Linked DNA regions of Homo sapiens: region 1 is linked to region 2. The links come from fine-mapping of genetic effects on gene expression. Tissue or cell type: visceral fat. Region 2 holds a variant in brackets; the other region holds the start of a gene. All regions are shown on one strand. Distances are from middle to middle.

Region 1 (2,918 bases), 110 kb before region 2:
GTATTGGAACTTGGAGTCTAAAATTGTATTATGGCAGAGCATAGTGGCTCACACCTGTAATCCCAGCCCTTTGGGAGGCCGAGGTGGGAGGATTGCTTGAGGCCAGGAGTTTGAGACCAGCCAGGGTAACATAGTGAGATCTTGTCTCTATTACATAAATAAATTAAATTAAAAACAAAATTACATAACTTAGACCAGAACTGTGAACAAGTACCTGAAGCCAAATAAGACAGATAAAAATTTCCTTCTAAAACTAAAGCAAGACAACTGACAACTTGCTGGGCAAGTAATTAAATTATTATTATTATTATTAATAGTTAATAAAACAATAGCTATCAGGTAGTGAGCCTGGCACTATTTAAGTACTTAACATGCATTTTCCCATTAAATCTTTCAACAATTGTGTAAGGCAGGAACGATTATTTTTACATCCCATTTTACAGATGAGATGTCAGGTTTAAATGATGTAGTCATTTACTCATGGGGTGTGTGGTGGTATGTAAAAAAAGGAATATCCACCTATCTGTTTACCTCCCTCCCTCTCTCCCAACATACCTATCCATTAAGATATTTGGATTTACATATATTAAGATTGTCTATATATATTAAGATTGTCTCTATATATGTGATATATATGTATATATTTGTATATATATGTATGTATGGCATATATATTGAAGGCATAATATATGCACATTAAGAGCATGAATATATATATCTTAAGAGCACACATATGTGTATATGTGTATGTATATAGCTATATACATATAAACACACACACACACATATACACGGAGAGGAGAAAGAGCACAGACTTTGTAAAAATATAGATCTTAGTTTAAATCCCAACTATGCCGTTTATTAATTATAGGATCTGGGATTCTATGTCCGTTTCTCATCTATAAAATAGGAATAATATCATCTGCCTGATAGGATGGTTGTGAGGATTATGCAGGTATCATGCAAGCTACTTGACACAGGTTCGTCTAAATGACAACTGAAAAATTTTTTTAAGTGATTGATCTAGGATGTCCTTCCCAGTAAGCTACAGGATTAGAGTGTTCATGTGAATTGCCCAGACCTGCCTGCACAGAGAGAACACTGAGGGTTCCAAACGGGACCTCCTCTCCCTGCACAGAGCTTCCTCTTACAATTTTTTGTATTGTGCCAGGCAGCCTGGTATCTATGTCCTCTCGGATTTTTCTTTCCATATATTGTATCTAAAGTTGGGGCTCCATGAGACAGTGACCTTACCTCATACATACTTTTAAGTACAGTTATGCCAGTTTGAAAAGTGTTCACTGTTATAAGCATGGTCATTTTCACTTTTACTCACTGATACCACAGGAGGTCCTAGACTGTCACCCTTTAGGAAGGACATGTATTTATTGCCAAGATATTAGGTACAATCTTCCTTCCTTTCCGGGGACCTTCCATGGGTCACACCTGGGAGAACCCTCCTGAATGCAGTGTGTGTCCCCTGACTCCTCTGAGCTTGACTTTCCCACCACTGGGCTAATCTAGAAAGCTGTAGTAGATCAAGGCTCACAGGACGTGGTAGATATCGAAGTCATCTGCAGGGAGAGACGGCTGAGAAGTCATTTTAATGGAACCACGTTGGACTTTTGCTTCTATTCAGGAGCTACATCTATTCCTTTCAACTTCATTTCTCTGAGCCTGTTAACGCTGGCTTTTTGTTTTAAACAATTGATATGCTCCTCTCTCTTCCAGTAGCTGCGAACTGATTTTCACCTGTATCAGGCACCACTCCAACTTGGATTTTCCGTACATCATAATCCTTTCCATTCACCTTCAAGATTCTATCATGTTGCCATGAGACACTGTTACTGGGTTGTCTGAAATGTTTTAGAAAGATTAGGCTCCAGAGAATGAACTACACATATAACCTCTCTTCCTTCTTCCATCACTCAGTTTCTCTTGTGTATATATATATTACACATACACACACACACACTTAACATGTGCACAAAAATTTACCGCCACTGAGTTAGTGGACACTACGGCAACCCTGCCTGCTCTGGGCACTCATTCCCCCTTCCCAGCGACTACACCACACCTAGGAGCCCTGAGGGAATTTCCTCACCCCGGGGAGCGAGGATTTCCACTTCTATTCAGGAGCTAGATCTATCCGGACTGAATACCGGATCAGAAAAAAAAAATTGCCATAAAAGAACATTATGGGAACGATTGATGAAATTTGAATATGGATAATATGCAGATAGTTTTTTCTATTAATGTTGAATCTTCTGAATTTGATAAGATTGTACTGTGTTTATGCAAGGGGATGCCCTTGTTCTTAGAAAATACACACTGAAGTTTTTCGGGGCACAGGGGCATGATATATGCAACCTATTTTCAAACGGTTCAGGAAGCACACAGGGACAGGAGGACAGGAAGGAAGGGGACTGATAAAGCACATACTATAAAGCCAGTGCACCCACACGCCAGCAGTTGGTGATTCCGAGTGAAGGCCCACTAAAGAGCACTATTCTTGCAACTCTTCTGCAAGTTTAAAAAATTAAAAAGAGGCCGGGCGCATCGGCTCACGCCTGTAATCCCAGCACTTTGGGAGGCTGAGGCGGGAGGATCACGAGGTCAGGAGACAGAGACCATCCTGGCTAACACGGTGAAACCCCATCTCTACTAAAAATACAATTAACTGGGCGTGGTGGCGGGCGCCTGTAGTCCCAGCTACTCGGGAAACTGAGGCAGAAGAATGACGTGAACCCGGGAGGCGGAGCTTGCCGTGAGCCGAGATCGCGCCACTGCACTCCAGCCTGGGCAACAAAGCGAAGACTCGGTCTCAAAAAAAGAAAAAAAAAATTAAAAAGAAAGAATATATTACACATATTTTTTGCTAAAATGGATTTCTCTCCAGATATATGACTGGTAAGTCA
Region 2 (2,918 bases):
TCCAGCCTGGGCAACAGAACAAGACACCATCTCAAAAAAATAAAAAAATACTAGACATATAAAAAAGATGAAGGAAAAAAAGCAGTCACCAGAAACAGACCCTAAATGATGCAAATGTTGGAATCAGTAGACAAAGACTCTAATGCAGGTATTATAAATATGCTGAAGGGCATACAGGAATAGACAGTCATAATGAGAGTGCACATGGTGCATCTCAGCAGTAAAATGGAAACTATAACAAAGAATCAAATAGCAATCCTAGCACTGAAAAATGTAATGTATGAAATGAAAATTCACTGGATGGGCTGGGCGCAGTGGCTCACGCCTGTAATCCCAGCACTTTGGGATTACAGGCGGGCAGATCACAAGGTCAGGAGATCAAGACCATCCTGGCTAATAAGGTGAAACCCCATCTCTACTAAAAAAAACCACAAAAAACTACCCGGGTGTGGCAGCAGGCACCTGTAGTCCCAGCTACTCGGGAGGCTGAGGCAGGAGAATGGCATGAACCCAGGATGCAGAGCTTGCAGTGAGCTGAGACTGCGCCACTGCACTCCAGCGTGGGCGACAGAGTGACACTCCGTCTCAAAAAAAAAAAAAAAAAGAAAAGAAAATTCACTGGATGGACAAAACAGCAAAATGGAGAATGTAGAAATAAGAGTGAACCTGAAGACATCAATAGAAATTATTCAATACATCAGATAAAGAAAAAAAAGTTAATTAAAAAAAAAAAACTTCCTGGCCAAATGCAGTGGCTCACGCCTGTAATCCCAGCACTTTGGGTGGCCAAGGCGGGCGAATCACGAGGTCAGGAGTTCAAGACCACCCTGACCATCAAGGTAAAATCCCATCTCTACTAATAATACAAAATGAGCCAGGCATGGTGGCATGCGTCTGTAATCCCAGCTACTCAGATGGCTGAGGCAGGAGAATTGCTTGAACCTGGGAGGCAGAGGTTGCAGTAAGCCAAGATCGCACCACTGCACTCCAGCCTGGACAACAGACCAAGACTCCATCTCAAAGGAAAAAAAAAACAAAAAAACAAAAAACCTTCTCAATCAGGTAAAAAATTTGAACGTGCAAATATTTACGCAAGCAGAATAAGTACAAAGAGAATCACTCTCAGGCATATTATAGACATGCTGCTGAAAACCAAAGGAATAGAAAAAAAAAATATTTAAAGTAGCTAGAGAAGAAAAAGACCCATTCCACACAGGAAGACAACTACTGTATTACAGCTGCCTTCTCATTAGAAACAAAAGCTACAAGATAAAATAATGACACCTTTAAAGTGCTGCAATGGGCTGGGC[G/A]CAACAGCTCACGCCTGGAATTCCAGCACTTTGGGAGGCCAAGGCAGGCAGATCACAAGGTCAGGAGACCAGCCCAGCCACCATGGTGAAACCCCATCTATACTAAAAGTACGAAAATTAGCCAGGCATGGTGGTGTGTGCCTGTAATCCCAGCTTCTGGGGAGGCTGAGGCAGGAGAATCACTTGAACCTGGGAGGCAAAGGTTGCTGTGAGCTGAGATCGCACCACTGTATGCCATCTAGCCTGGGCAACAGGGCAAGACTCCATCTCAAAAAAAGAAAAAAACAAAAAAAAAAAACCCCTGCTGCAATAAAATAACACAACCCAGAATTCTATATCCAGTGAAAACATTCTTCAAACATGAAAATAAAAGAAATATATTTTCAGATAGACCAAACTGAGAAAATTCATGTTCAGTTCAGTGTAGCTGCACTATATGAAATGCTAAATAAAAGAAACTCTTTGGCATCGTCAAACAAGAGACACCAGATGGAACCTCACCATCTATAAGAAGAAATGAAAAGGACTGGAGATGGTTAAGTACAGGGGCAAATATGAAAGACTGTCAGGTCTTTTTGTTTGTTTTTTTTTCTGGAGACAGGGTCTTGCTCTGTTGCCCAGGCAGGAGTGCAGTGGTGTGATCAGGGCTTATTGCAGCCTCAACTTCCCAGGCCCAAACGATCCTCCCGGCTCCAATGATGTTCCTGCTTCAGCCTCTTAAGTAGCTGGGACTACAGGTACATGATACCATGCCAAGATTTTTGTGTGTGGTTTTCTTTTTTTTTTTTTTTTGGTAGACACAGGGTCTCACTATGCTACCCGGGCTGGTCTCAAACTCCTAGGCTCAAACCATCCTCCTGCCTCAACCTCCCCAAGTGCTGGGATTACAGGCGCGAACCATCACATCCAGCCTGTCAGGTTTTTTGTTTTTGTTTTTACAGACTTCCTTGAAAAACTCTTCAATATATCTAAAATAAACCCATTCTATGTACTTTTATTCCTAGCCTACCACCCAGAGACCTTCTCTTCTTCCTCTTATACTTCCTCATCAGACCCTAAAGCATATTACAATTTACTCAGTTGCCTAAGAAGGAAATGTAGTTACCATGCTCAAATCTTCCCTTTTCTTCACATTCACCAAATCCTATTGCATTTATCTCATTAAGCCCTTCAAATATGCCTACTTCTCTTCATTGTCAAAAACATCTTACTTCAGGTTCTCATCTTTTTGCCAGAGTCACTCTAAAACTTTAGCAACTGGTCTATTTTCTTCCAATCCAATCTAAAAATGCAAACTGCTCTTACAAAAAATAAAATCAGCCGGGCCTGGTGGCTCACACCTGTAATCCTAGCACTTTGGGAGGCCGAGGCGGGTGGATCACCTGAGGTCAGGAATTCAAGACCAGCCTGGCCAACATGGTGAAACCCCATTTCTACTAAGAATACAAAAATTAGCCGGGCATGGTGGCGCATGCCTGTAATCCCAGCTACTCGGGAGGCTGAGGCAGGAGAATTGCTTGAACCCATGAGACAGAGGTTGCAGTGAGCCGAGATTGTGCCACTGCACTCCAGCCTGGGTAACAGAGCAAGACTCCGTCTCAAAATAAT

Direction of the effects. Alleles are on the strand shown, and positions count from the first base shown. SD is a standard deviation of normalised expression in the study named.
For the expression in visceral fat of the gene that starts at base 1,743 in region 1, allele A in region 2 goes with a lower level than allele G (moderate effect, 0.49 SD a copy in GTEx).

What was found. PIP is the estimated chance that this variant, and not a neighbour inherited with it, causes the effect. A credible set is the group of variants that fine-mapping cannot tell apart.
Region 1: it holds the start of USP50, and the variant in region 2 is the best candidate, but not a certain one, in a credible set for the expression of USP50 in visceral fat (GTEx, PIP 0.70).

The regions. Positions count from the first base shown.
Region 1 is chr15:50,544,924-50,547,841 of GRCh38, forward strand. It overlaps USP50 (ubiquitin specific peptidase 50), which reads right to left and starts at 1,743. Exons shown (of 7, transcript NM_203494.5): 1 at 1,550-1,743. The coding sequence starts at 1,602.
Region 2 is chr15:50,654,414-50,657,331 of GRCh38, forward strand. The region is part of intron 3 of TRPM7 (transient receptor potential cation channel subfamily M member 7); the gene reads right to left. The region is part of intron 3 of LOC128092252; the gene reads right to left. Among named protein-coding and RNA genes, the nearest start is that of TRPM7, 31 kb to the right of the region's middle. The variant G/A (reference allele first, on the strand shown) is at 1,311.